2 linked regions of the Homo sapiens genome follow. The protein of the gene in region 2 interacts with the protein of the main gene of each other region in a biochemical or structural test. Each region holds a gene or a part of one and is shown on either strand. Other genes may lie near its edges.

What was found.
Region 1: of the proteins of NHLRC1 (region 2) and PPP1R3C, one has a biochemical effect on the other in vitro, tested with the Homo sapiens proteins (one study listed by BioGRID).

What each region holds. Positions count from the first base shown.
Region 1 is NC_000010.11:91,625,885-91,641,989, reverse strand, and holds PPP1R3C (protein phosphatase 1 regulatory subunit 3C), read left to right. Parts: upstream 1-8,918; 5' UTR 8,919-9,020; coding exon 9,021-9,034; intron 9,035-11,123; coding exon 11,124-12,063; 3' UTR 12,064-13,548; downstream 13,549-16,105.
Region 2 is NC_000006.12:18,111,427-18,127,009, reverse strand, and holds NHLRC1 (E3 ubiquitin-protein ligase NHLRC1), read left to right. Parts: upstream 1-4,332; 5' UTR 4,333-4,403; coding exon 4,404-5,591; 3' UTR 5,592-6,570; downstream 6,571-15,583. UniProt on the Homo sapiens protein: E3 ubiquitin-protein ligase. Together with the phosphatase EPM2A/laforin, appears to be involved in the clearance of toxic polyglucosan and protein aggregates via multiple pathways.

The sequences.
Region 1 (16,105 bases), on a different chromosome or scaffold from region 2:
AATAATTGTGAACCTTCTATAGTCATTCAGCCTTATCAGGTCTCAGTTTCCCCTTTTGTAAGATGAAATCAGAGGAGTGGCTTCACAGAGTTTTAATGAAGATTAAATAAAGGCTATGAAGGCAATTGTAAAGTTGAAAGAGGTAATCACGTGTAAATGTTATTGCTCATGTGTTGCCACTGTGATTTTGACCAATTGGATCTTGCATTTCTGTTTGTAGTTTGCGAAATAATAACTTCTTCCAGTATCAACTATGAAGAAGACTAAATTTTGTAAATAGCATTAAAACTTTGAATTTGGGGGTGGGACAGAGTAGAAGCAAGATAAGATAAAGTGATACCTAATCATCTTTTGCCCTGTTTTAAGCAATAGTCCTCTGTTCTTCTTCATCTTCTTTTTTTTTTTTTTTTGATATGAAGTCCCGCTCTTGTCCCCCAGGCTGGAGTGTGATGGCATGATCACGGCTCACTGCAACCTCCACCTTCTGGGTTCAAGCAATTCTCCTGTCTTAGCCTCCTGAGTAGCTGGGATTACAGGCACCTGCCACCATGCCCAGCTAATTTTTGTGTTTTTAGTAGAGACGGGGTTTCACCATGTTGGCCGTGCTGGTCTCGAACTCCTGACCTCAGGTGATCCACCCGCCTCCGACTTCCAAAGTGCTGGGATTACAGGCATGAGCCACCGCACCTGGCCCGTCTTCTTTTTAATTTAATAGCATTTAACTTAAAAAAAAAAACCATTAGATTGTAGTCATATTGTAGCAGTGATTATATCATAAAATATGTAAAAGGACTGAGCAGTGGTAGATTCATAGTTTGTTCTTAACATTAATTTTCTTTCTTCTTTCTTCAGAAAGAAAAATTTATTTTAATCACCAGTGGTTTGAGCTCCAAATTTCTGTAACAAAGAAAACTCAACAATGTATATAGGAAAGCAAGACCTAATGCTTTTTTGCTCAACATCATCACTTTTGATTATTGGAAGTTTTTTTTTTTTTTTTTGACAGGGGAAGTAACAGCATTTTGAAGTTTTTTGTCTTCTTATCAGTGGCTCTCAAATAATTGCCAGTTTTACTAAGTGACTTAAGAGTTTAATAGTTGTTCATTTAAAAAATTAATACCTTGCTAATAGACAGCAATAAGACCTGGAGAAAGTTGGCTTTAAAATGTGTTTTTCATGGACACATAGAGGGAAACAATAGACACTGGGGCCTACCAGAGGGTGGAGGGTGGGAGGAGGGAGAGGATCAGGAAAAATAACTAATGGGTACTAGGCTTAATACCTGGGTGATGAAATAATCTGTATGACAACTCCCTGTGACATGAGTTTACCTATATAATAAACCTGCACATGTACCCCTGACCTTAAAAAATGTGTTTTTAAAACTGTGGCTAACATTCTAGAGAATTTACTACACTTCAGACAAAATATTAAAGCCCTAGTAAAAATAGTTGACTCAGTAGGATCTGGAAAATTGTTAATCCTCTCCAACTTTCCCCAGTTGGAACTTTCAACCACTTACCAGCCATTTAGCAGCTAAACAGAAACAGTTCTCTGATAGACACAAAGCTCTGACTTCGACCAGATCTGCTTTTTCTCCTCATGGTTAAAGGAGAAAATACAGCATTCTGGCTTAAAAGAAAGGAACAAAGAGTTCTGAACATCTTGTGGAGCGAGTAGTTATTAACAGTTATGTCCAGAGTTAGGAAAAAGTTGATGTGATATGTTTGTGTGTGTGTGTGTGTGAGTGAGGGGAGTGGACTCGTAGAGGAGGAGAGGTTTAATTTTGTCATATGAGAAAGAAAGTGTTATGGTACCTTACAAATAGGGGACTTGTTTTCAGTCTGGACTCCTCTGCCAAAGGGTCTTCAAAACCCCTCCAATAGCTAAGTTCACAGCTGAGTCCAGAAACCAGATACAGAGCTAAAAAATAGACTATTCAGGACAATATGAATCTGGTGAGTAAATAGTGGCCTAGGTAGGCAGAGAGCCTCTGCATCTCATAGGCTATTGGATTTTCAAGTAAAAATACAGATTGCAAAGTCAGGATATAAAGATTTAGTAAAAAAAAAAACTAGAGGTGCACATCCCTGCCCAGATAGAGCAATGAGAACACACACAAAGCATCCAGGCCCACCCAGTGCTGACACATCCCATCAGCTGTACCCATGAAGAGTTTTCTCCTGCTTCTTAGAAAGGAGGAACTTGAGATAGGAAAGAATGTGTACTTAAGAGTATACATTAGGCTGGGCGTGGTGGCTCACACCTGTAATCCCAGCACTTTGGGAGGACAAGGCAGGCAGATCACTTGAGGTCAGGAGTTTGAGATCAGCCTGGCTAACGTGGTAAAACCCCATCTCCTCTAAAAATACAAAAATTAGCTGGGTGTGGTTGCACACACCTGTAATCCTAGCTACTCTGGAAGCTGAGGCACGAGAATCGCTTGAACCCAGGAGGCGGAGGTTCTAGTGAGCCGAGATCACATCACTGCACTCCAGCCTGGGAGACAGAGTGAGACTCCGTCTCCAAAAAAAAAAAAAAAAAGAGTATATTTAATACATTGTCTCAGTGAGTTTTTTCTCACTGAGTAATTGCCCCAGTACTTTTCTCTATCCCGTAAGTCCTAAGTTAGTTAAAAAGAAAACTCTCGGCTAGGCGTGGTGGCTCACGCCTGTAATCCCAGCACTTTGGGAGGCCGAGGCGGGCGGATCACCAGGTCAGGAGATGGAGACCATCCTGGCTAACATGGTGAAACCCTGCCTCTACTAAAAATACAAAAAAATTAGCCAGGCGTGGTGGCGGGCACCTGTAGTCCCAGCTACTCGGGAGGCTGAGGCAGGAGAATGGCATGAACCCAGGAGGCGGATCTTGCAGTGAGCCGAGATCGCGTCACTGCACTCCAGCCTGGGCGACAGAGCGAGACTCTGTCTAAAAAAAAAAGAAAAGAAAACTCTCTAAGTCACCCAAATTACAGCGTGCAGGACAGTTGAACCAGGCCAGCCATCCTTTTGCAGAATTCCCTCTTGAGGTGCTTTATTCATACATGTTGCTGTGCCATCAAAGCACAGTAGTCCCCCTCCACAGAGGTGTGAATAAAATAATTTCTTCCATACATCCTCCCAATCCTCCCACCCCACCCTATATGTCTAGCCAGCTGCCCTTTTATTGAATAAGCCGTTCTTCAGCGCCTCTTATGAGAATTACCCACTGTATCATATATATGAAATTCTGATATGTAAGTAGTCTATTTTATGAACTCTTTCATCTCACTGATCTGTTTCTTTACACACACACCAATTCCAGTTTATTTTTTAAACTTTAACTTTATAACAAATTTAAGCTGACTGGGCTAGTATCTCATTTTTCTTTTCAAAAATACTTTTTCTTCTTATTTTGATTTTTCTGATGTTGAAGTTTCCTATGAATTTCCGTACATTTTGGCTAGTTTCTAATTCTCCCCCTGAACAAGTCATCTCTTTCCCATCTTCCATACACTCACATTAAAGCCTTTTAAAATGCCCTTCAGTAGGTGTTTTAATAATGTCTGCATGGATTATTTCTAACTTACTTGTTTATTCACCCTAATCTTCCGATGAATACAGAGAAACTGCAGCAACTTGATGGAACTATCGACACAAAAGGATGGTACCTCCCCCACAGTCAGATTGTTATTTTATTCTCTGCTTATTTCATTTTGTAGTACTTAGATCTCTAATTTTGTTCATGATAATCCAGCAGATTTAAAAAAATTTTTACACTTAAGATTCTCTCTCTTGGCCTGGCACAGTGGCTCAAGCCTATATAATCCTAGCACTTTGGGAGGCCAATGTGGACAGATCACTTGAGGCCAGGAGTTGGAGACCAGTCTGGCCAACACGGTGAAACCCCGTCTCTACTAAAAATACAAAAATTAGCCGGGCGTCATGGCGCATGCCTGTCATCTCAGCTACTTGGGAAGCTGAGGCAGGAGAATCACTTGAATCTGGGAGGCGGAGGTTTGAGATAGTGCTGCTGTACTCCAGACTAGGCAACAGGTGAGAGTCTGCCTAGAAAAAAAAACCTCTCTCCTTTGACCTCTCCTCCTCATGCTCCCCAGCCAGAATCCTCACCTTTAGCCAAATTCTTCTCCTTGTAGTTACTCAATAAGTCCTGGTCCTCTTTGGCCATCCTGACCCCCAGAGGCTTCTCCTTTCTCTAAAGTCCTGAAGCATGTGTAGCAAATGTGTGTAATATTCACATGATCCATTTGCCACTAAGTCAACCTGATACAGTTATATCATTCTTTTTTTTCATCCGCCCTCCCCTCTCCTTTTCCTCACCTCACCTGAGATACCTACATGTTTCAGGCGGCATCCTGCACTTTCTTTTCTTTTCTTTTTTTTTTTTTTTGAGAGGGAGTCTCACTCTGTCACCCAGGCTGGAGTGCAGTGGCGCGATCTCGGTTCACTGCAACCTCCGCCTCCTGGGTTCAAGTGATTCTCATGCCTCAGCCTCCCGAGTAGCTGGGATTACAGGTGCCCAGCACCACTCCCAGCTAATTTTTTTATTTTTTAGTAGAGAAGGGGTTTGACTATGTTGGCCAGGCTGGTCTTGAACTGCTGACCTCAAATGATCCACCCACGTTGGCCTCCCAAGTGCTGGGATTACAGGTGTGAGCCACCTCACCCAGGCCTGCACTTTCTTTAACCCCTTATTTTGCTAACACTTATGCTTTTCCACCACACCTAGACCATTGTCTGCTCTTACTGGACTATTTTACAAATGGGGTTTGAGGTAAAAACTAAAAAATTTCCAGTAGTGAAAATTATACTTGAAAATCCCTTTAGTGCAAACGGAATGGCTGGTAGCATAGTCTACTTGGCAACAAGCAGATTTGTTAGTCCTTTCACTTCCCCACTTGCCTCTGGGAATATGCCCTTTGAGTGGAACGGTGGGTGGCTGGCACCGTTTCAATGGTGATCTTATTTGCTCTCTTATTTGCTGAGCCACAAAGTTGTATTCTAGTCATCTAAATGCCCTAAAGATGATAGCACATCATATTTAAGTTCTTCCCATTTTCCTGGCCTTCCCAATTCCCGCTACCTCCTTGAAGCTTCCACAGATATTCCACAGCGAGCCTTCTCCTTTCGGGATCTCTTTGGCCTTCGGAGCTGCTTTTTGGTCTTGGTAGCTACCAGTGTGGTGCTTGTCTTTTTCAGAGCAACTCACATACTAGGAGCGTGGATTCTAGAGGGGCTTGAAACCTGATCCTGTCACCTACTAGCTGTGTGATCTTGGACAATTGGCACCTTCGATGTCTTCACGTTCCTCATCTGTGAAATGGGTTTCTACCTCACCGGATTCTTATAAAGATTACATGAGTTAATATTTCTAAGTGCTTAAAACAGTGCCGAGCCCAAAGTAAGCAGTATATGTTTTTCAGGTTGTATCCTTTTACTTAATATTGGAGTTCCTGTTGAATGTAGCTAAAGAAGGAAGAAGAAAATAGTGTACAAGAGCGCTTACTATTAACTGAGACAAATGAATTGGCACCTTTTTTGTTCTCCAAAATGCAAAACCTGCTCCTTTTAATAATAATTAAAAAAAAAAAAAACCAGTTCGCAACTTCCCTGACTCTTTCACTGAAACTCCGTAAGTGATCTTCAAGATCACTTACGAGGTTTCTCTCAGTTACCACTAACTGTGGTTAAAGTACTGACATTTTTATATTAATAACTATGAGGCTGAATTCTCAAGTACTTTCTTGATTAGGCACTGAAAAAAGACAAGCTTGCAGAAAATGAGTTGGCAACTTGGCAACCCCCCAGGGTGTTTTTCCAAAGGCAGCTCTCAGGCAACGTGTTGAGTGAATGCTGTAAGAGACCCACTTGTGTAAGCCCCACAATTATCAGCTCCTTGCTTAGTAGCTTCTTAAAATGTCTGCTGGGTATTCTATGAATTTGTTTTTCTGTAATAATGATTGTAACCTCCTCAAGGTCAAAGGATTATGACTGCTCAGACTTTGTAACCCCTGGCATGGAGCTGGAACTACTGCATAGCTCAATAATTTCCTGCTGATAGATTGATTGTTAAGATGGGTAGGACCAAGCAATGTTTAGATGCTGCCAAACCACAGTGGGAGAAATCCTACGAATAATAGTACAACTCCCCACGATTCCTTTCTACTCTGTCTTCATTGGTGCAACCTACAACTAAGAACACTGATTCCATCCTAGTTTCTCTCATCCAATAATGAAGGGGAGCAAAAGCTGGGAAGGAGACAGAAGTGAAAAGCCTGGATCATCCAATTTAGAGGTTTATTGAGTGAGTGTTGAGTCCTTTTAGGAGAAAGCATGGTCTCCCTGAATCTTCCATTTGAAGGAGCTGAAAGGGAGAGTGACTTCTATGGCATTAGTCAACACCAGGGGGCAGGAGAGAAAGCTGTATGAATGGAACAGGCTGAAAGGGTGGTGTGAGTAAATGGCACAAGCATGTGAAAATTTCCACCACGGTTCTTGGCACCTAGCAGTACGCTATATGTGTTAGTTGAATCCCAGAGTTTTAACGCCCTTGAAAAATTATTTCTTAATTAGGTCGTGTATGTTCATTGTAGAAAAATTAAGAAAAACAACAGAGCAGCAAAACAACGAAGACATTTTTAATCACTCATAATCTCACCATTCCAAAATGAACTGTTCACATTTCTGTAGAGCACATTCTGTTTTCTATGCATGGATACCTTTCCCTCAAAATGCGATCACCATAAATTGTTATTCATGTTTCTCCATAGTTTTAACTGGTAATATTTACTATTTAGCTCAACATATAATCATGGGTAGAGGAAAAGAATACCCAGGGTTCTAGTTTTGGCTCAGACCTAGCCAGCCCCTGGCAAGCAGCTTGACCTGTCTAAGCTTTCAGTTCCTCATCTGTGAAATAAAGAGTTTGATGCCTATCACCTCCTACCTCCATAATTCTAACCATTGATGGGTCATTAAAATAAGACAATATGGTGCAGCGGTTATTGCTCTGGTATCAGCCAGGCTCTAATCCCTGCTCTACCTGTGAGAACCTGGGCAGGTTTTTTTTTTGTTTTTTGTTTTCGAGATAGAGTCTCGCTCTGTTGCCCAGGCTGGAGTGCAGTGGTGCAATCTCAGCTCACTGCAACCTCCGCCTCCCGGGTTCAAGCGATTCTCCTGCCTCAGCCTCCAGAGTAGCTGAGAGTACAGGTGTGCACCACCATGCCCGGCTAATTTTTGTATTTTTAGTAGAGATAGGGTTTCACCATGTTGGCCAGGCTGGTCTTGAACTCCTGGCCTCAAGTGATCCACTGGGCAGATTTCCTGACCATTCAGTGTCTCCGTTTTCTTTTCTCTAAAATGGGATTAATAATTGGACATATCACATAGGGTTGTTGTGAGGATTGAATTGATAGCACATAGTGTTTGGCACAGAGTAAAGGCTCAACAAGCAGCAGCTATTCTCAATATTTTAGCTCAGGCACCAGGCGCCTTGAGGTGATAGAGTAAAAACTCTAGCTGAGAGATCAAGTAGAAACTTGGGAACTAGCCCGGGTGGAACACAGGCACTGGGCATCGTGCTGAGTCTGTTCATTGGCACCATCTTACTTCATCTTCAGAACGTTACTATCTCTGTTTTACACATGAGGAAACTGAGGTTAGAACTTGCCTAGATTCGTGTAGCTAGTAAGTGTCAATCCAAAGACCTTCCAGCTAGTTTTGGTTGAGCTAAAGGGGCTAGAAGACCTGCCATTAGTTAGATATTTCATTTCAAAAATAAAACCCAGGCATGAAGTCCCTTTCCCAGTGATATTCAGTGTGATTTTTTTCTTCACTCTAATAATTTTAACAATTCCACTGTTTGACAGTTGTTTAAAAGACATAGGAATTTTTGTATATTTTAATTGACTAATGGATAGCTCAATTAGGGGAGCAAAACTAGGATGTGGGTTTTATAAAAATAATTTAGACTTGACTTAGACATTTAATTTTACAGTTGTAAATGATGGTCTAAAAATTCTTCAAACTAATCAAAATAATGAAACTTCAGCGAAAGTGAGTGGCTCAGAAGGCCCATGAAACATACGGCGTGATTTTTTAAATTTTATTTTAACATTTTGATTTCCACACCACTGCCAAAGGACGTCAGAATTGAGTAAGGGGTTTGGGTTGACTGCTGCCTCTTGACCGGCTGTATGTGTGAAAAGGGTCATTTCACTTCCGGCTTTAGTGTTCCCCGCAGGGGAGAAAATTGAAGAATAGACAGAAATACGAAGTGTCTTTTAATTAAATGCCACCTTGGTGTTTTATGGGGCTCGTATGCTTTCCTAACAACATTTGTTAGATAAGTTGGTAATTCCCGGCAGCTGTCTACTGTGTGGTGCATCTGTGAACTCATACTAATCGAAAAGCATGCAGCCAGTTTGGGATCGCGCAGGCTAAGGTGAGGGAGAAATGCGGATACACCGGGTAATGAACGATATAAACATTTCAAATGCGATACACATTCGGTTTGAGCCACATCTTCTGTGTGCAGATTCACCCGCAGTGACCCACAAAGCTATTCCCAAGTAACAGCCGCCCCAAGCCTGAGGCACTGGCGCCCCGCCTGGGCGAGGCTGGCTGCGCTCTCTCTTGGCCGGCGCCCGCTGCATGCGGTACGTGCCTGCCCGGCCCCTAGCCCAGGGTTCCCGTTACGCGGCTGGTTCCAGCTGGCCGCGGAGTCCCAGAACCTCCCCGCGATGCCCAGATAGCTCTCTGCACGTCTCGCCCCGGGGCGATCACGTTGCCGGGGCGAGGGCTGGCGCCCCAGCTGGGCGCTGGTTGGTCGCGCCCTGGGGCTCGAGGCCCGGCGATTGGTCCCAGGGATCGGGTCACGTGCTTGGGAGCAGATAAGCGGCCTCTAGGCGCCGGGCCCTCAGTCTCTCCCAGCGACCGCCGCGGGGGCAAGGCCTGGAGCTGTGGTTCGAATTTGTGCAGGCAGCGGGTGCTGGCTTTTAGGGTCCGCCGCCTCTCTGCCTAATGAGCTGCACCAGGTAGGTTCGCTGCAACTCTGCGCGCTAGGAACACAGGGGAACGCGCAGCTGTGGGGAAGTTGGGGGGCGTTTCAGTTCTATCATCTCTGGAAATGGACACCCCAGGGGGAGGACAAGTGGACTGACTGCGTAGTTGAATCTGGCAACCGAGAGGCCTTGGAGGTGTAGAAATTTGGCTCTATTTCTTAAGCAGAGCCTATTTTAGTAATCAGCATCTTAAAGCAGAAATTATCTTAACGTGAATCAGCTTGAGTTAGGATTTTCTCATGGATGCGGCTGTTCTTTTGGTCCTGCACAAATGTCCCAAAGACTCGGGCAGCTGAAGTGGTGAGAACAGCACTCTGACATTGCTGGTTAGGTGGTTTAGCTTGGAGGAAAAAAATTACAGGACGACGTTTGCATTCATTCGTCCTTCTTATCACAGTTTGCCATAGCAAAATCTCAAGAGTTTGAGCAAACGATTACTTTTAACTCTTGTCCAGGACTTAAAGTTCCAAGGAAATCACCCAAACTAAAACTGTCTTTCTATAAATGCAAAAAGTAAAAAAAAAAAAACAAAAAAACCAAAAAAAACCTCCCATAAAACTACTTTAAATAGCTTCTCCAGACATAGCTTAGCAGAAGACTTCTCTAAAAATCCTGCCTATTAACTATTATTAGACCCACAAATATAGCTTTAGCTTTCATTTGTTTGTTCTAAGTTTGCAGATCTCCCAGAAAAACCCCAGAGCTAACACAGTAAATTCTGCGAGTGTTATTACACACTTTTGTGATAATGACCACTTGCATACATGTTTAGAGCTGCTGTGAGGAGAGTTACTAAAGCCAGACTGAGAAATGTCGTGTACAGTATACACACACCTCTTACTTGTAAGGCTAAGATAGGGAAAAAAATCTTAATACCATAAGCTTGGAAATATATGATGAGGGCTAAAGGTCAGAGAAAAGTCTTCTTTATAGATGCTTCTTGGTTTAATATTGCTGAGCATAGTCATGTTTAAAACTTTAAATGGTTTTATTGTCTTTCTACTTATAAATGTCTATTAGAAAATGCCAAAAAAGAACAAAAACGAAAATAGATAATCTATAATCCTATCACCCAGAAATAATAATTATTAAATTATTAGGAAAGGTGTATTTCCTATAGAGTTTTTCAATATTTATAAGTTTGTATATATAAAATGTATATTTTAAAACACTCCAACTTTCAGGTAATCAGTTTTTCCACTTAAATGTGGACTTGTCATGGGCATCTCTTTAGGTGAATTATCAATTATATAGTTTTTAAGTGCATATGAATTGTTGGCTTGTATTTCAGTGGTTATTTGTGAAAAATAAGAGCATGATAATCAAAGTGCAAAGATGATTCTTTGACTTCTTCTCTAGCCTTCTCACTCTCAAAACTGTTGCATGTTATTTTTTTTTTTTCAAGTGAATTACCTTACCAGAGAAGTGTCAATCAATTTAGCAGCAAAATAAGCCAACGTAGCCAGAGGGAGCAGAGGGTCTGGAACTGTGGCTCCTGAACCTGTCTGGTCATTAGAATCACCTGGGAAGCTTTAAGAACATACCCATCCCTTGGCCCTAGCCCCAGAAGTTCTGCCTCAGTAGTTCTGAGTCCCAGGAATTGGAAAGAAAGAAGAAAGAGAAAGAGAGAGAGAGAGGAAGAAAGGAAGGAAGGAGGGAAGGAGGAAAGGAGGAAAGACAAGAAAGAAAGAAAATGAATTCCCTAGACATAGTGACCAGACAGGTTTGAGGACCACTGGTCCAGAACAGAGCACACAGTTCTCAAGGCTGCCTTGGAGATAATCAAATCGAACCCTTTTATTTCTCAGATGGGGAAACTGAGACCCCCATCACCCTCTAAGTGTTTTAAGCAATTAATAGCCTTTAGCCGGCCAAGGGTAGAGGTAGACATAGAAGATCTGATCACTTAATACTGTTCTCTTTTACTACATATGATAGCACCTGCCTGATATCTAGTGCACTGGCTATAATTCAGTCAGCACAAAAATAGTACATATGTATTTGGCACTGGGGAAGAGCATTTCCGATCCAGGTGATAATCCCTCTTCTTTTTGCATTCCAGAATGATCCAGGTTTTAGATCCACGTCCTTTGACAAGTTCGGTCATGCCCGTGGATGTGGCCATGAGGCTTTGCTTGGCACATTCACCACCTGTGAAGAGTTTCCTGGGCCCGTACGATGAATTTCAACGACGACATTTTGTGAATAAATTAAAGCCCCTGAAATCATGTCTCAATATAAAACACAAAGCCAAATCACAGAATGACTGGAAGTGCTCACACAACCAAGCCAAGAAGCGCGTTGTGTTTGCTGACTCCAAGGGCCTCTCTCTCACTGCGATCCATGTCTTCTCCGACCTCCCAGAAGAACCAGCGTGGGATCTGCAGTTTGATCTCTTGGACCTTAATGATATCTCCTCTGCCTTAAAACACCACGAGGAGAAAAACTTGATTTTAGATTTCCCTCAGCCTTCAACCGATTACTTAAGTTTCCGGAGCCACTTTCAGAAGAACTTTGTCTGTCTGGAGAACTGCTCGTTGCAAGAGCGAACAGTGACAGGGACTGTTAAAGTCAAAAATGTGAGTTTTGAGAAGAAAGTTCAGATCCGTATCACTTTCGATTCTTGGAAAAACTACACTGACGTAGACTGTGTCTATATGAAAAATGTGTATGGTGGCACAGATAGTGATACCTTCTCATTTGCCATTGACTTACCCCCTGTCATTCCAACTGAGCAGAAAATTGAGTTCTGCATTTCTTACCATGCTAATGGGCAAGTCTTTTGGGACAACAATGATGGTCAGAATTATAGAATTGTTCATGTTCAATGGAAGCCTGATGGGGTGCAGACACAGATGGCACCCCAGGACTGTGCATTCCACCAGACGTCTCCTAAGACAGAGTTAGAGTCAACAATCTTTGGCAGTCCGAGGCTGGCTAGTGGGCTCTTCCCAGAGTGGCAGAGCTGGGGGAGAATGGAGAACTTGGCCTCTTATCGATGAATTAAGCAACAATGTAACTGGTCTTGACTTGTCATATTCCCCCATGCAATCCTAGGTCTGTATTGCTCAATTTTAGGAAGCCTTTGCTACTCCATCAGTAGGTTTAGATTTGAGCTTTTGAGACCTGGCTATGGAAAAGAAAGACACTTGAGAATTTAGTGTTGGGGTCTGTACAGATGATGCTACCCAATTTGGCTTTGAAGGATCAAGTAACAGGTTGAAAACTATTTTTATAAAGGTAATACTTTTTCAGTTCCCTTCTTCCTTCCCTCTCAATCCACTAGCTTTCATGTTGGGCAAGGAAAAGTTGAGGAAGGATGGCTGATGGTGATGGAAAGCTGTGTTAATGGTATGAGGAATGTGTGAAAAGTATACACAAAGGGCTCTGAAGCTCAAGTCAGAGGAGTGGGAGGTCTGATCATTGTTGGTGGAAAAACGTAAGGTTATTTTGTGTTTTTAAGTTGGTTTTACAATTCTTTCCTGGGGAAATTATTTCTGGAGGGGAAAAAGATCCATTCTACGTATCCTTGTGGAGAAAAGCTAAATAACCTTTAAGAATGTGGGTGGTATTGGAGAAAGAAGATGAATTATAGCTCCGGAGAATCAAGATCTTAAGTGAAGCCTTTCTGTTCAGATGTGATCTATAAAAAATCATAATTTGGGGAAAGTTTAAGCAAATCTGGCTTTGTAGTCCTGATGTTATAAGTGACTTTGTGATCAAACTGTCAGGCTTGGGTTCTTGTTATAGAATGCTTGGTATAGAAAAACCATGCCATCATTAATGGCTAACAACACGTAGGGACTTCATGTCATGTCAAAGATAGCTCTTTGCAAGTGCCTTGATTAAACCAGAAAACTGTCATCGTTTAACCCAAATATCTGAATGGTCATCTGGTAACTCATGGGTTTTTGGCCTCATAAGATGGTCCACTCTGTACACAGGCATTCCTCCTGCAATAATGTTGTATCTTTGAGACCGTTGTCAGTGTACACAACTCACATCCTTCATATTGAAGGTGACTCATTTTTCTGCACACTTTTTTGATGTGATGCTTGACGTGAGGCCCGACACTAGGATTCTCAATGCAAGAATCCAGTACCTTGCACATAGAAGTAGCAACCCATCCCTTGCCTATTTTCATCTTGCTGTTTTCTTTTTTTTAAAAAAATGGATGTGACTTGTTTTGAATGTTTTGTATTATACTTGTTTTTGTGTGTGCATAAATTCATTCTGTAGGATCTTAAGAAAAAGAGTCCCAGAATGTTGCTTCTATTATTGTGCACAACCATTGAGAGGTGTTACAAGAATGCAGTTAATTTTAACATGTGTGATGTGCCATGGTGGAAAAGTACTATCGGAATAACTCTGCAGTGACAGAATTTGAAGTTTGGCTAGCATCCATACTTTTCTACTGTAAATATTTCACTCTCCTCTAGCTATCCTTGATGAGCTTCTCACTTTAAGAATAAATGTGTTTGATATAAGGCCTGAGTATATTTTCTTTCTCAAAGCCACAGTCAAATAAGAAACTCAACTGACATTCTCATTTTTCATTTAGGAACAACTGAGCAGAGTTAGTATGGACCAAGACATGGATCCATCTGAGGATATTCACAAGGCCCCAGTCTCAATAGTGAGCACACTTCCTACCACCTGACCATTGGGGCTGGAGAGCAGGGTCAATAACTTGAGCTGTTGCTACTACTTCTTCCCCTACCCTGACTGTCCTCATCTATGGTTTCTGCTCACACACACACAATCTGCTGGGTCAGGGTTATGTTGGAGGCCATGTCTCAGCTTTAAAATGGGGAAGGAGTTGGTGTGGGAAAGGTTGGAGTGGCTGCTACGTCTTGAGCTACAGCACGTTCCTGAACGGGCAGAACTTCCAGCTGCACAGAGGGGCATAGGGAAGGGGCAGTAGGCGCCAGTCCTGGACTGAAGGGAGCAGCACTGCTCCTTGGGGTGAGAGGCAGCAGGTCCATGAACCTAAGTTGTTGCTCCAGTTCTGCCTAAAATCTGCACAGTGTATCTAAAGAAAGATCTGCACAGTGTTGACCAATCTACTAAAAAGGCCCAATTATGAAGAATAAACTTTTATCATATCATAGAATCCTCTATGTCAGAGCTGTAAACCACAGGCCTGCAGGCTGTATCTGGGCACAGATGTATTTTATTTGACACGGGATTTTTAAAGAATTTATTGCCATGATATAACCATCAGCAGACTACATTAAAAAATCTGGGTTTACTTTTTTTCCTAAAAAAATTGTAAGGTCTCCCCACATGGCAACAAATACATGAAGTTGAATAGTAGCTGTGCCCCTTAGATGGGGCATGCATCCTAGATGGGTCAAACTGCCTTGTTTTGGCCACAGTCTCTACCCATGCCTTCACTCTCTCACACTATCTGCCGAGCTCTGTAAGAGCTGGAATTTACAGCCCCTATTTTGTTTCCTCTCTATTTATGCTGATGGTTTGGTGGACTGCCCTGTTCCCAAGGGATGGAGAAAAATCAAACTTGGGTCTGACAGGGACCTCGAAGACCATGGGGCTCAAGTGCCTAACTTTATAAAAGAAGAAACTAAGATCCAGATAGGTGAAGTGACTTGTTCAAGGTAGTGTGGCCAGGGTGAGCCAGCTGAACAGTGACTTGTCACTTAGTGTCCCTCCCTCTGCTTCACACAGCCTCCTTGAAATCTCCCATGGAGTTGCCCCTTCTCCCGCAGCCCCCTTCTTACAGGAGAGCTATTTTCAGGCAGGCATGACCAGCTTGACCCAATTTTGGGGTGACCCTGGGCAGCTGATGAGGGAGGAGCTGGTCAAAGAGCAGGGTGTTCCTGGAGCTTTACTATCAAATAGAATTAACTGCATTTCACATCCTGATATCTCGCCTAATAGTAGAAGCAACTTTGCTTTTAAAAATTTAACATGAGAGAATAACTTAAATTTGGAATGCATGATATTCTGTTCCAAAAAATATTAAGTTTAATTTAGTTATTTAAGGAAGGACTATTTTTTTTCTCTCTACATTGATGGCTCTCCTTTTAGTTCATCCCCAGACTGAAAGGCTGGAAAACTCTAGGGTGGCAGTGAACTGTGCATCTTTATCAATGTGAATCCAAAAGTTCTGCACAAGTTTGAGTGACCCTTCAAGCTGCAAAGGGAGAATCTCTTCCTCAGCTTTCATCTCTAGGTTCCTCATAGAGTTTTTTGGCAGCTACTGGGAGCTGTCATCTGAACAAACCCTCTCATTAGTGGGGAAGGATCCCAAACTCAGAGCAGTCCATGTGCACCGTTGCTGACTCCTGGCCTTGACTTTTCCCTCTTTTTGACAATGAGTGGACACCCATTCCTGGATTTGGATGGTCCCTCTAAGCCAGTGGTCCTTAACTTTGCCTGCATATCAGATTTAACTGGTAAGCTTTACAAAATACTGATGCCTCCCCCTGAACCTCATAAGATTTGGATTTAATTGGTCCAAGTCGTGCCCTGTGCATTGGACAGTTCTAAAAACTTTCCAGATGTTTCCAATATGCATCAAGTTTGAGGACCTCTGATTTAAGCTGTGTGAAGTGTTTTCAACTGTCCCGATTCAGAGAACAGAGTCATGTAATGGCTCAGAGGATTCCTCCACCCACTTACACACACACACACACACACACACACACACACACACACACAAAATAAAAATTAAAAATAAAATTAAAAATTAAAGATTAAAAATAAAAAAACCAAAAACCAACCAGACGGTGAAATAGAGGTCCATAGTGATTAAAATTTGCTGAAGATTACAGAAATAGTAGAGCTTGGCCTACTGCCCCTTCTCCAACACCCCCAGCCCTGCCCATACCATCTCCTGCTAAACAACCTGGACATGGACTTCTTAATTTTACTAATCAATTATCTCTTTTTCTCTTTTCTGATCTTTTGTGTATAGGAGTAGGTTAATGAGGAGGCTTTTTGGCACAAGTGACATGATCCCTTGACTCACGTATCTTCAACTACAAAGGAAATAGATTATCCTACAATACAAGATGCAAG
Region 2 (15,583 bases):
TATGTGCCTTAAGCATAGTCATTCCGATTTGCAGAAAATAGTCATGTCCCAGATTTATTACTTATGTGTAGCTGTAATTTGTGAGCTGAAAATATGCTTGAAAATCTGTGATTCCTGAACAGTGGGTATTAATAGAAATTTATTTCACTATTGGTGTTAACTTTCGACAACAGGAGGATAATCGAGGCAGATATTTAGAAATGAAATATATCATAAAATATTAAGTTATTTATATTTAAATATGACAAATAATCCTTTATGCATTGAAAATTTGGGAAGTCTAAAAAGAAAAAGAAAAGCAATCAAGTCCTATCACTGGAGATAATTACTGCTATGATGGTGATGTATTTTCTTCTCATCTTTTTTGTCTGCTCATACATGTGAATGTTTTCACAAGGTTGTTGTGATCACATTACGATACAGTATTGTATCTCCACTATCTTTCTTTCTATTTCATTCACCCTTCCTGGAGTTGAGGCAGGAGAATAGGGTCTTGAGGCAGGGAACCTAAGGCTGATTCATGCTGACTTCCTAGAACTAAATTGAAAGGAAAACCTCAACTTTCCATGCCTAAGTAACAAAAGGACCAGAGGCTACTCCCTTTGTAACCTCCACCACCCCACCGCCCCTAGCCTTTTCTGCGTGGCAGAAACATCTGCAACCAATCAAACGTTTGCATAGGAGTGTAACTTTTGTAACTTCACTTCGGCCTCTCATTGGTTGCAGCAAGCAAAAGCAACCAATCAGACTGATTGCGGGCCACTACTTTATTTGCATGGGATGAATACCAAGTGGCCAGTGGGAAACCTCTAGGCAGTATTTGGACCCCAGAAGATTCTGTAACCAGGGCCCTTGAGCCACTGCTCAGCCAGGTCCCACCCTGTGGAGCACTTTCATTTTCAATAAATCTCTGCTTTTGTTACTTCATTCTTTCTCTGCTTTGCTGTGCATTTTGTCCAATTCTTTGTTCAAAAAGCCAAGAACCTGGACAACTTGTAGTCAAACCTTCTACTGGTAACAGTGTCACTAAATATTTTTCAAAAGCAAGATTTTTAAATAGCTGTATAATGTTGTAATGTGGCAGTACAATTATTATTTAGTCTTTCTCCTGCTATTAGAGTCAGCATTCATTCAGCAATTTAAGTACTATTGGGTGTGCTAGCAGATAAAGGTTTATTGATTATTGAAGATAATCCTTTTCTCAGGCATCACAGGTTGTAGGGGTAGGGACTGAACATTGAACTTCATATGGTATGGCTGTCTTAGGGGTACAGGCAGGGAGCTGTCAGCTTATAACTGGTCATTTAAACCACGAGGAAGTGAAGATGGCATTGCTCAGGGAAACAGGTAGGAAGCTAAGAGAAAAAGACTGAAGGTGGCACCCTGAGGAACACTCAATTGCATTGAACTTGAGATGCACTCAAATCTCTAGATCCCCATTTCCAAACATACATCTCCACTCATTTTTGTATGGACTTACTCAAAAAATTCAAAAACAGCCATTCTTCCTCTTGCCACCACATCCCTCACCCCTGAGATGCCAAGAACATGGAGCTTAAAAATTAGAGTGGTGGTCAGAGACGCCCCTGGGAGGAGGGCAAGGCTGGAAGCAAAGCCCATTCTGTGTGGCTTGTTCATCTTCCTTTCCCTTACATCATTGTCAGGTAGTCTGAGTTGTAATTGGATCATTAAACTTGTTCTGGGATTCCTTCTAAACTGCATGTGTCTGGCACATTTGCCCCACCTGCACAACCAGGAGCCCACCTGTCTAAGCACTGACTCCCCCTAACTCATGCTCCCCCTGTGCTCTCTTCTCTGCTGGAACCATCCTGAGCTGGGTCCCCACTCTCCTTCCACTATAGTATGGTACTTTTTCATAGGGCAGCCATTGACCACTTTGGAAACTAGACGTTCTGCTCTTCAAGCCCTTTGCCCCCACAACTCTCAGGGCTTGTTCTAGGTGGAAGCAGGAAAAGATGGGCATGCTAGTCCAGGACCCTCTATAGAAGGAATATCGGAGGGAAGCACAGGGTAAATCCATGGAGGCCCAGCCATGGAGGAGGAAATGATAGTCATAGGAAATGCCAAATGTCAGAGTGAGATTCAAGACATATTTGTTATTAATCAATTATGCAATGGTGTGATTGCATAAATAATGTGATTTTAGTTGGTTGTTTATTTGGGATGGAAATGTAGTCAGAAATTATTAAGTTGGTTATTGTGTCCCAGTACGCAATCTTTGAGTCAAATGACATTTGATTAGAAAATGTTCTTTCTTGTCTTACATTAAAGCTCTTTCCAGGGGCCTCAACAGGGGATAAAATATTGTGTTTTCTCAGAAATCTAGCAAATCAGAAGGTGAATGTTCATGATTATGATCTCTAAAGGAAAAGAAATTCTCTAATACAAGGTTTTGTTAAGCACAATGTTCACATAAGACATTTGAGGGAGAACCCCTTAAAAATAAGAGTTTAGGGCCAGGCACGGTGGCTCATGCCTGTAATCCTAGCACTTTGGGAGGCTGACGCGAAAGGTCAGAAGTTTGAGACCAGCCTGGCCAACATGGTGAAACCTCATCTCTACTAAAAATACAAAACTTAGCCAGGCATGGTCACGGGTGCCTGTAATCCCAGCTACTCAGGAGGCTGAGGTGGGAGAACCGCCTGAACCCAGGAGGTGGAGGCTGCAGTGAGCCGAGATCGCGCCACTGCACTCCAGCCTGGTGACAGAGCAAGACTCTGTCTCAAAAAGAAAAAAAAAAAAAAGAAAGAAAAAGAAAAATGAGAGATTATAATACCACAATGGATTCTTCACACAGATTATGCTATCCCTTGTTTGAAGATTTTCCAACATATGGCAAATTCTCTTTGTTTTTGGTCTTAACTGAGATTGGAAAAACTGAACTTAGTGTCATTTGAGGGAATTATTATAATGCAGTGTTTCTCAAACTTGGCTGTACATTATAATCACCTGGGGAGCTTTTATAAATCCCAGCTGTCCAGACCACACCATGGGCCAATTAAACTTTTCGGGTGCGACCCAGGTGTTTACCATGTGCAAAGAAGTTTGAAAATGACTAAAATAGGTAACTCTGAAGTCAAACTGCCTGGCTTCAAATTCCAGGCCAGCCACTTCCTAGCCATGTGACCCTGGGCAAGATATTTGATTTCTATGAATTCTATCAGAAAAAAAGACAATAAAAATAACATATTTTTGTAGGATTGCTATGAGGTTTAAACAAGATAATCTATGTAAATTATTTATTAATTTGCTGCAAAAGTAATCACGGTTTTGCCATTAAAAGTGATGGCAAACACTGCGAATCCTTTTCACCAACCTAACACAATGGGGCAGGCATATGTGAATTCCATAGGCTGGGCACAGTGGCTCACACCAGCACTTTGGGAGGCCAAGGGGTGGGGAGGAATGTGAACAATTTTCACAAGTTCAAGACCAGCCTAGGCAACATAGTGAGACCTCCTCTCTACAAAAAAATTAAAAAATTAGCCTAGTGTGATGGTGCATGCCTGTAGTCCCAGCTACTGAAGTGGGAGGATTGCTTGAGCCTGGGAGATGGAGGCTGCAGTGAGCTGTGATCGTGCCCCTGCACTCCAGCCTGGGTGACAGAGTGAGACTTTGTCTTAAAAAACAAAAAAATGAAGTTCTATGGTAATTATTATTAACTAACAGCTTTCTTATTTCATATTAATTACTCTGCAAGACACTTCCAGCATGGTTGCCCCATCTGACACTCATTCACCTCGTTGATTTTTTTTTGTTGTTGTTGTTGTTCTATAACATTCATTCATGCACAAATTCATTTTACAAGTATGTATTCATCTAACATTGACTTAACTATGAGTATGACAGAAGACACAAAAGAAATGTACACATCTGCCTCACCTCCCTTGGAGTTTATCTTCTCTAGTGTGTTCGTGTTTTCCGGTTCAGATCATAAGCATCATGAGCTAAGGGACCATGTTTTATGCCCGGACAGCCGTAGCACCCGGCGCTGCGGATTGGAGACACTGCTAGGCACCCGGGCTGGAAGATTGGGTTCTAGTTCTTGTTTTGCCGCTTACAGGCTGGGTGACAGGGAGCAATCCTGTTGTCCTCAATAGGTGTGTTTCCTCATCTGAAAGTGTACACAATCCATCCATGACTGCTGTGACGATTACAGGTCTACACAACGCGCATGTGGATTTGTCTTGCAAACGTCCACCATCAGGCCCTCAGGAAACAGTGCCGCGCGTGCCCACCAAGGGGCAGCAGATCGCAGTGCAGAGGCCCGCGGCGCTCGACGTCAGGGCGCACGTCCCACCCCGTGACCATGACTGTGACCGTGACCGAGAGCGTCGCTGGGGCACGGCCAGGCGGCGCGGCGGGAGTGCACAGGACGCGCCATGGCGGCCGAAGCCTCGGAGAGCGGGCCAGCGCTGCATGAGCTCATGCGCGAGGCGGAGATCAGCCTGCTCGAGTGCAAGGTGTGCTTTGAGAAGTTTGGCCACCGGCAGCAGCGGCGCCCGCGCAACCTGTCCTGCGGCCACGTGGTCTGCCTGGCCTGCGTGGCCGCCCTGGCGCACCCGCGCACTCTGGCCCTCGAGTGCCCATTCTGCAGGCGAGCTTGCCGGGGCTGCGACACCAGCGACTGCCTGCCGGTGCTGCACCTCATAGAGCTCCTGGGCTCAGCGCTTCGCCAGTCCCCGGCCGCCCATCGCGCCGCCCCCAGCGCCCCCGGAGCCCTCACCTGCCACCACACCTTCGGCGGCTGGGGGACCCTGGTCAACCCCACCGGACTGGCGCTTTGTCCCAAGACGGGGCGTGTCGTGGTGGTGCACGACGGCAGGAGGCGTGTCAAGATTTTTGACTCAGGGGGAGGATGCGCGCATCAGTTTGGAGAGAAGGGGGACGCTGCCCAAGACATTAGGTACCCTGTGGATGTCACCATCACCAACGACTGCCATGTGGTTGTCACTGACGCCGGCGATCGCTCCATCAAAGTGTTTGATTTTTTTGGCCAGATCAAGCTTGTCATTGGAGGCCAATTCTCCTTACCTTGGGGTGTGGAGACCACCCCTCAGAATGGGATTGTGGTAACTGATGCGGAGGCAGGGTCCCTGCACCTCCTGGACGTCGACTTCGCGGAAGGGGTCCTTCGGAGAACTGAAAGGTTGCAAGCTCATCTGTGCAATCCCCGAGGGGTGGCAGTGTCTTGGCTCACCGGGGCCATTGCGGTCCTGGAGCACCCCCTGGCCCTGGGGACTGGGGTTTGCAGCACCAGGGTGAAAGTGTTTAGCTCAAGTATGCAGCTTGTCGGCCAAGTGGATACCTTTGGGCTGAGCCTCTACTTTCCCTCCAAAATAACTGCCTCCGCTGTGACCTTTGATCACCAGGGAAATGTGATTGTTGCAGATACATCTGGTCCAGCTATCCTTTGCTTAGGAAAACCTGAGGAGTTTCCAGTACCGAAGCCCATGGTCACTCATGGTCTTTCGCATCCTGTGGCTCTTACCTTCACCAAGGAGAATTCTCTTCTTGTGCTGGACACAGCATCTCATTCTATAAAAGTCTATAAAGTTGACTGGGGGTGATGGGCTGGGGTGGGTCCCTGGAATCAGAAGCACTAGTGCTGCCATTAATGAATTGTTTAACCCTGGATAAGTCACTTAAACTCATCTATCCAGGCAGGGATAATTAAAACCATCTGGCAGACTTACAAAGCTTGGGACAGTTATTGGAGATTAATCTACCATTTATTGAATGCATACTCTGTGCAAGGAAATTTGCAAATATTAGCTTATTTAATCTGTACTATCCAGTGAGGTAATTTCTTCCCCCCCAAGATAGAGTCAAGCTCTGTCACCCAGGCTGGAGTGCAGAAGCATGATCACAGCTCACTACAGTTTCAACGTCCCCCGCTCAGGTGGTCCTTCCACCTCAGCCTCCCAAGTAGCTGGGACCACAAGTGTGCATTACCACACTCAGCTAATTTTTGTATTTTGGCAGAGATGGGGTTTCACCATGTTGCCCAGGCTGGTCTCAAACTCCTGAGTTCAAGCAATCCACCTTCCTCGGCCTCCCAAAGTACTAGGAGTACAGGCATAGCCACTTGCTCAGCCATAATTTTTATTATTAATCTCATTGTACAAGTGAGAAAACTGAGACCCAGAGAGCTTAAGTGACTTCCTCGAGGTCATAGTTACTTACTGCCTTAGTCCCAATTTGAATTCAATTCTGATTCCAAATAAGTTGCGCTTAAATAAGACAACAGATGTGGGAAAAATATGTGAATGTGTAGTGTTGCTATGTGTACTGTCTTTACAAGTAGCTAATTATTTTAGCACAAAGATGTGCAAAGAAAGGAGACTTTATGGAGAGTTCAGGAGAAAAAGGATTTTGTGGTGGCCATCACTTTCATTCAATTTGCGACTGCTCTGATGGCACATTAGATGAAGTTACTGTTGATCCTGAGTTACGTGAATAAGAAAAACAATTGAACTGCTTATTAAAAAAGTAAACATGTCTTTTAACGCCTATATCTTCTCCACTATACAAACTCAGAAAATACCACTTGGTTGTTTGAGAAAGGCCTATATTTGTGTAAGTTCTAAACTATTGCAGAACACACTACATACTAGCGTCAAAGGGCTGATGACGCTCCTGTTACATGTTTATGGGGTTTTTTCGTTTGTTTGTTTGCTTTTAGACATGGTCTTGCTCTGTTGCCCAGGCTGGAGTGCAGTGGATTGATCACTGCTCACTGCAGCCTCGACTCCCTGGGCTCAAGCGATCCTCCTGCGTCAGCATCCTGAGTAGCTGGGACTACAGGTGTGTCACCATGCCCAGCTAATTTTTAAATTTTTCGTAGGGATGGGATCTTGTTTTTGTTGCCCAAACTGGTTTCAAGCTCCTGGGCTCAAGAGAGCCTCCTGCCTTGGCCTCCCAAAGCATTGGGACTATAGGTATGAGCCACTGTGCCTCGCCCACGTAAAGTAAAAGCGAGAGCCTAACTCCCATGCCAGTCCACAAAAACCCATTTTCTTGTCAATGCTCTCATCATATAGCACTAATAGTAAGATTTGGGGCACCCTAGACCACGATTTATAAATGCATTTTAAAAAGAAGTTCTATGGACAAACCTCTTCTCCCCACATGCACACACTCCACCCTTAAAGTCACCCCTAGGCTGGTAACTTCACGGGTATTCTGAAAACATAACAAGAAACGTTGTTGCAGGTGGAGATACGAATTCAGACTTATTTGGTCATTTGTGAGTACAGCAACTGAGGATAGATCTTAGACCATTTTCCTTAGGAACAATGACATTTTAATGATTTTAGAATTAGTAGAGCCAATTCAAAAGATTTTTCTCTTTGGAATTATTAATGGCATCATCTCTGACTATAAAGCTGGACATGTGTCCTTTACAGACAGCAGTCATGATAGAGGTGTGGAATATGCAACACAGGGAGGTATGTGAGCAAGGTAGTATTGCTGGTCATCGTGTGGATTACCCAACGTCAAGAATCAGGTGCGCATCTGTGAGATGATGAGGGAGTGTATCAGACCTGTGATAACAAGCCACCTTAGTAACTGCTATCTTTCCGTGGTAGATTATCAGGCTTGGGACTGGGGTGGGGCTGGATACACAACATAAAAAGAACTGTATAAAGCAGCTCTTCCCAGGAATGTCATAAGACAGGAGCAGAGTTTCCTTGAGGAAGACATGAAGCTTGCTGTTCTTGATTCTCAAGCACACATGCGCTGAGGGAATAGTTTCAATGACCTGTAAGGCAGATGCAAAATTCATCTTCCGGACTGTGTTCTTTTTTTTTTTTTTTTTTTTTTTTTTTTTGAGACCGAGTCTGGCTCTGTTGCTCAGGTTGCAGTACAATGGTGTGATCTCAGCTCACTGCAACCTCCACCTCCCGGGTTCAAGCTATTCTCCTGCTTCAGCCTCCGCATTAGCTGGGATTACAGGCGCCCACCACCACGCCCAGCTAATTTTTGTATTTTTAGTAGAGACGAAGTTTCACCATGTTGGCCAGACTGGTCTCGAACTCCTGACCTCAAGTGATCCACCTACATCGGCCTCCCAAAGTATTGGGATTACAGACATGAGCCACTGTGCCCAGACAGACTGTTCTTTAAAGCAAGCTGGTTAAAAGGCTTGAGATATGTCATGCTGAACTCCAGGTTATTAAAGAAATTGGAGAATTCTGAGACAGGCAGGAAAAAATAACCCCAGCAGAAAGTAAAAGCTTCCAAGTTGATGAAGAAGGGTTGGAATGACTCTCAGAGGTTGAAACAAAAGAACCTGCCCAGGAGTAAAGGGAGAAGGAGAAGGAAATAGGCTCTTCCAGAATATCCCCCATGCCCTGCCTGGTGAGTCCATAAAAGCAAACACAGACACTTTGGCTCCTGTGTCAGCAGTTCTCACGTCACCCTCCATCTGTTCCAATTTTGCCCAATTCCCGATCCTTGGACTGTCTCCTGCTTTTGACCTTGTTCTGCCTTCTGGACTTGCCGCCTGGACTTGGCTTTCTCAATCTCTTTCCTTGGCATTTTGTAAAAAACTTGGTTCACACTCATAAATCTCCCCTCTACCAAATCTAGCTCTGGACCCCAGGACCCAAACCATCACCATTTTGCTAGTGCTTTATGCAGAAGATATCTTCCCTGGCCCCCGACTAAGTGGGGTGCAGACCCCACCTGAAGTGAATTATGAACCTTCTGAGGAAGAAGCATTAACCTGTGCACCTCAGAAAAATGAGGAAGAACCACTGATGATAGCAAATTTAATAATCCTTACACCTGCCTTATTAAGAAGAAATATATACTGGCGTTAGTGTTCCACTATAGAGATATGCTATGGTGGTGTATCATGGCTAGTCAGGAGATGAACTGTTTTCTTGGAGAATGTGTAGCAAATATGATAGGGTGGCCAGAGACTCACCACAACTACTGTACTGAATAACCATGGTGTCTTCTGTGCCCACAGCCACTTCTAAGAAAAACTGTCCCATCATAAGCCAGCCGTCAGCAGCCAGGTTTTCTATTACATGATCCCCTCGGACCATAGCTACTTAGATAGGGGTGCACACCTAACAGAAGGACACTCAATCAACCAATGATGCTCCACCAGATGTATTAATTAGACCAGGAAACTGGCTTCCTTTCAAGGAGCACAGAGATCCAATTACATTCTGGTCCTTGATTTTTTTTTTTTTTTTTAGATGGAGTTTTGCTCTTGTTGCCCAGGCTGGAGTACAATGGCGTGATCTCGGCTCACTGCAACCTCCGCCTCCCAGGTTCAAGTGATTCTCCTGCCTTAGCCTCTGAGTAGCTGGGATTACAGGGCATGTACCACCACGCCTGGCTAATTTTGTATTTTTAGTAGAGACAAGTTTTCTCCATGTTGATCAGGCTGGTCTTGAACTCCCGATCTCAGGTGATCTGCCCGCCTCGGCCCCCCAAAATGATGGGATTACAACCATGAGCCACCGCGCCCAGCCATCCTTGATATTTTGAATTGAGAAATACGGAGCATGTTAAGCTGATGGCAGCCTGGGGAATGCCAGAAATATGCTCAGTTACAGGGTTGCAGAGAGTCCTTGTGGGCAAGCCACATCACGAATGACAAGCTATGAGGCAAAGGGAACACAAAACTCACGGGAATCCAGGTAAGAATGAGAGGAAGAAATGCATCCAGAAAAGCAGTGGCTTGGAGCCATGTTACCTCCAGGGCACCAGCATGATGATCCCTACTGCAAGATCCCTGGAGCTGCCCTGACTCCACTTTGCCTCTCTGCAAGGCCCAGCTGCCTATGGTTTCTATTCTTGGAGTCCTAACAACTCTCTCCTATCCCATGAGAATTCTTATACTAAATGTTCCACTGCTTCAGCTAACCTGCACAAATCTCTGTGGTTTTTTTTGTTTCTTTTTTTGCAACAGAAAGTTTGGTCAGGCATGGTGGCTCACACCTGTAATCCCAGCACTCTGGGAGGCTGAGGTGGGTGGATCACCTGAGGTCAGGAGTTCGAGACCAGCCTGACCTACATGGTGAAACCCCGTCTCTACTAAAAATAAAAAAAATTAGCATGGTAGCAGGCACCTGTAATCTCAGCTACTCGGGAGGCTGAGGCAGGAGAATCGCTTGAACCTGGGAGGTGAAGTTTGCAGTGAGCCGAGATGGCGCCACTGCACTCCAGCCTGGGTGACACAGCGAGACTCCATCTCAAAAAAAAAGAGTCGTAATATTTTGATGATTGGTTTGGAGAAAATTGGTCTTAAATATACGGATTTTGATGCCATGAGTAGGAAACAAATTCTGTGGGGAGGAACACTCTCCCATTAACTCATCAATCCCTAATACCGGTAGGGTATGAGACCAAAGAACAAGTAGAGGCTTACATACCACAGGTCTAAATATTTAAGACTTATAAATCAAGCCAACAAACTTAAATAAAATACATTTGATCCTCCTACCTTGACAAAGGTAAATGTAAATATTAAAAATATACCCTTTTTTTTGGCCAAGATTGGTGGTACACGCCTGTAATCCCAGCACTTTGGGAAGCCGAGGCAGGAGGATTGCTTGAGCTCAGGAGTTCCAGACCAGCCTGGGCAACATGGTGAAATCCCATCTCTATTTAAATATTTATAAAAAATTATATATAGATAGATATTTTTTAAGAGGCAAGGTTTCACTCTGTCACCCAGGCTGGAGTGCATGGTGTGATCATAACTCACTGCAGCCTCGACCCCTGGGCTCAAGCCATCCTCCCTCCTCAGCCTCCCAGTAGCTAGGGCTGTAAGTACATACCACCACACTGGGCAAATTTTTAATTTTTTTTTATGGAGTCTCACTATGTTTCCCAGGCTGGTCTCAAACTCCTGGGCTCAAGTGGTCCTCCATCCTTGGCCTCCCAAAATAAGCTACCATGCTCACCCTACAAATATACTTTCATTATGATCTGGAAGGCCAGGTTTCAGTTTAGAATAGTTGAATGGAATTTTTGCTCGATTTTGGGATGCGACATTTTAAGAAAGATCATGACGACCTGGAGCATGTTTAAAAGATATGAAGAAGAATCAAAAGCAAAAGCATCGGGGTTTTTTGTTTTTGTTTTTGTTTTGCTTTGTTTTTGTCAGCTTCTAGCTATCTAGAATGTAAACTCCATGAAAGATGTTTGTGTTGTTCCTAAGTGTATCCCTAGTGTCTAGAGCGGTGTTTGACACATTGTAGGCGTTCAAAAATATTTGCTGAATTAACGTGTTTTTCCCAAGGAATTTTTCTAGACTATGTATTTCTTTCATTGATAAAAGGGAAGTGGTATAGGTAGCTGGGTAGCTTGGAGAAGCTGGTCTAGAATTAAAGTGGTTTGTGGTGGGTTTGTGGAGTGACTCAAAGAGTTACAAAGGATTATGGTGACTTTGTGGTAGTCTGGGTTGAAATTGCATGAAAAACTTCATGTTCTCAACCACCACATTTTCCATTTTCACCTAAGTACATGGGACTTTGCGGTATTAAGGTTGCCTGGTCTTCATGAGTCACATCCTTTGTCAAATGATGAAGAGTGGAGAAAACACTGATCTGCAAGCTCTCCAATATCAGGTGATATCAGTGATGCCAACTCCATCTGGAGGGAAGAGAATGAACTAAAAGTGTTCCTGGATCACTCACCTGATGGTGTGCTTGGAGTGTTGTCAAACTCATCTTTGGGTTAAATCTGGTCAATAATGGGTGCATAAAGAAGCTTCTGCCTTTCCCAGGAGCCATCTATACAGCATGCACAGCCCAACCACAGACATTTGTTCACTAATAGGCTGCAAATTATAATATACAGTATACCCATTATGGAAATTAAAAAGCAGTTCATATTTTTTCTGCAAAAATAATGATATTATTTATAGGAGCTTAATTTCCTGACAAAGGACTTTGGTCAAATCAATCACTGGCTTCACTAACAATGTCATAAAAGTACCTACACTGCAAATCTGAAATTACTTATAAAATGATCAGATAAAATTGTGTGTCAAGCCGTAGAGTTTTAGGACTGAAAAGAAACTTAGACATATTTTTATTATGATGCCCTCAAATGACAACCGAAGCCTACGTATGTAAAAAGACTAGTCTAGGTCACACAGGTAGTTAAGAGCAGAACCAGGACTAGAAAAATGGACCTTTCCATATTCCAAATTAACCTCTCTAGTGGGAAAAGATCTAAAAGCCAGAGGCTTGGAATAAACACACATACACACACACAGACACACACACACACACACACACACACGCTGACGCTTGATATTTTACTTGCCCCCCACATCCCAACTAGTCCCCCCTACTACCCTTCCCAGCCTCTTATGACCATCTTTCTGTTCTCTATCTTCATGAGTTCAATTTTTAAAGTTTTTAGCTCCCACAGGTACGTGAGAATATGCAATGTTTGACTTTTGTGCCTAGCTTATTTCAGTTAACATAGTGATCTCCAGTTCCATCCATGTTATTGCAAATGACAGGATCTCATTCTTTTTTATGGCTGAATGGTACTCCATTGTGAATATGTACCACATTGTCTTTATCCATTCATCTGTAGACAGACACTTAGGTTCCTTCCAAATTTTAGCTATTATGTATAGTGCTGCAATAGACACGAGAGTGCAGATATCTCTTTGATATACTGATTTCCGTTTTGGGGTGTATATACCTAGGAGTGGGATTGCTGGATGGTATGGTAGCTCTATTTTTAGTTTTCTTATTTATTATTATTTTTTGAGATGGAGTCTGGCTCTGTTGCCCAGGCTGGAATGCCGTGGTGCGATCTCAGCTTATCGCAACCTCTGCCTCCCAGGTTCAAGCAATTCTTCTACCTCAGCCTCCCTAGTATCTGGGATTACAGGCATGCACCAGCGTGCCTGGCTAATTTTTGTATTTTTAGTAGAGATGGGGTTTCACCATATTGATCAGGCTGGTCTCAAACTCCTGACCTCGTGATCTGCCTGCCTCAGCCTCCCAAAGTGTTGGAATTACAGGCGTGAGCCACTGCACCCGGGCCCTTTCTTTAGTTTTCTAAGGAAGCTCCAAACTGTTCTCCATAGCAGTTGCACTAATTTACCTTCCCACCAACACTGCATGAGGGTTCCTTTTTCTCTACATCCTCTCCAGCCGTTTTAACTGGGGCGAGATGATCTCTTATTGTAGTTTTGATTTGCATTTCTCTGATGATCAATGATATTGAGCACCTTTTCACATACCTGTTTGCCATTTGTATATCTTCTTTTGAGAAATCAGATCTTCTGCCTATTTTCAGATCTTTTGCCCATTTTTAGATCAGATTATTAGATTGTTTTTCCTGTGGAGTTGTTTGAGCTCCTTATATATTCTGGTTGTTAATCCTTTGTCAGATGAGAAGTTTGCAAATATTTTCCTTCATTCTGTGGGTCGTCTCTTCACTTCGTTGATTGTTTCCTTTGCTGGGCAAAAGCTTTCTAACTTGATGTGATCCCATTTGTCCATTTTTGCTTTGGTTGCTGGTGCCTGTGGGGTATTACTCAAGAAGTCTTTGCCCAGTCCAACAACCTGGAGAGTTTTCTCAATGTTTTCTTATAGCAGCTTCCTAGTTTGAAGTCTTAGATTTAAGTCTTTAATCCATTTTGATTTGATTTTTGTATATGGTGAGAGATAGGGGTCTAGTTTCATTCTTCTGCATATGGATATCCAGTTTTCCTGGCATCATTTATTGAAGAGACTGTTCTTTCCCCAATGTATGTTCTTGGAACCTTTGTTGGAAATGAGTTCACTGTAGGTGTATGTATTTATTTTTGGGTTCTCTATTACGTTCCACTGGTCTGTGGATCTGTTTTTATGCCAGTACCATGCTGTTTTGGTTACTATAGCTCTGTAGTATAAATTGAAGTCAGGTAATGTGATTCCTCCAGTTTTGTTCTTTTTGGCTGGGATACTTTTGGCTATTCTGAGTCTTTTGTGGTTCCATATATACATCTTAGTGTTTCTTTTCCAGATGGCATCCAGGTTTGTATGCATGCGGGCCCAAGAGAACACTAGTATTTCCAAGTTAACCAATAAGACCATAATCATGAGGCCAGAGTTTTTACTTATTGCATAAATAGGGCCTAATCAGTCCAACATCCTAAGGCTCAGCCCCTACAGGGGTCAGATAACTTCATTCATGGCCATCAAATGTATTCCAGCAGTGCCTGTCCTTGTAATAGAAAGAGGCCTTTGGTTACAAGGAGTGTGGTTAAAGAATTTAAACATAATTAACATTTTTGTAATACTCATACATTGTTTCACAAAGCCGTTAATTTATTTGATCCTCACATTTCTTGAAGTAGACAGGGCAGGTTTTATTAAGCTGACTTTACAGGAGAAGAAGCTGAGATCCACAGGGATGGAGTGACTTGCCCAAGGTTACCCAACAAATGCCTGGTGCTTTAGGTTGGAGGAGGGCAGCTATTTTTAAAAATCTCTCCCAAGTAAATCTATTTTACAGCCAGGGTTCGGTAGCACTGCTCTAGAGAATAAACAAATATGTCAACTATCCCTTCGCGGGATTTATAGTTATCATTTGTATCAATCCCTAGGTAATGTTCTTTGGGAAGAAATATTGACATCCTTCTTATTTCAGAACTTCAACTCATAAAGTAGGCTGAATCCTGTCAATATCTGAGTGTCACAGGATCCACACAATGGTCCCTACTTAGAGGTACTGTGGAGAGATAACTATTTACATGACAAGAGCAAGGGTCTCAGGGGAAGACTTGGCGATGGGGGTCAGGTTCTGCTATTTCCCTTAAACCAAACGTCTTTGTTGTTTTTTTTTTAATGAAATATTCTTATTTTCATAAATCTGTGAATGTAATTCTTTGGCTCTCTGGCACACAGTGCTCTGCAGCTCTCTGATCTGATGCCAGTGTTGTGTAGGGCTTAACCCACAAGGTGAGGAGGAACTTTAAGAGCCATGTGCCCACCAGGCATAGAGGCTCACGCCTGTAATCCTAGCACTTTGGGAGGCCAAGGCAGGCAGATTGCTTGAGCTCAGAAGTTTGAGACCAACCTGGCCAACATGGTGAAACCTTGTCTCTACTAAAAATACAAAAATTAGAGGAGCGTGGTGGCAGACACCTGTAATCCCAGCTACTCTGGAGGCTGAGGCAGGAGAATTGCTTGAACCTGGGAGACAGAAGTTGCAGTGAGCTGAGATCGCGCCACTGTACTCCAGCCTGGGCAACAGAGTGAGACTCCGTCTCAAAAAAAAAAAAAAAAAAAAGCCATGTGCTAAATGGCAGAAGCCTAGCCTGTAAGAGGACATTCTTTCCAAACACTGTAACCCCAGAGTTTTCTTCCATTTTTCTCTCTTATGTGCCTTTGACTTGGGAGTCATTTCTTTGGAATTTTCCTCCTGAATTATCCCCCTGAAGAGAAGTAACACCTGCTCTTTGTGGAATTGGAAAATGCAGATAAGCATGCAGACATTTAATCACTTTTAATTAGACAAAACTGTTACCATTTTTGAAGTGAGTTCTCTCATCACTATGAAATTCGTATTCCTGAAAATC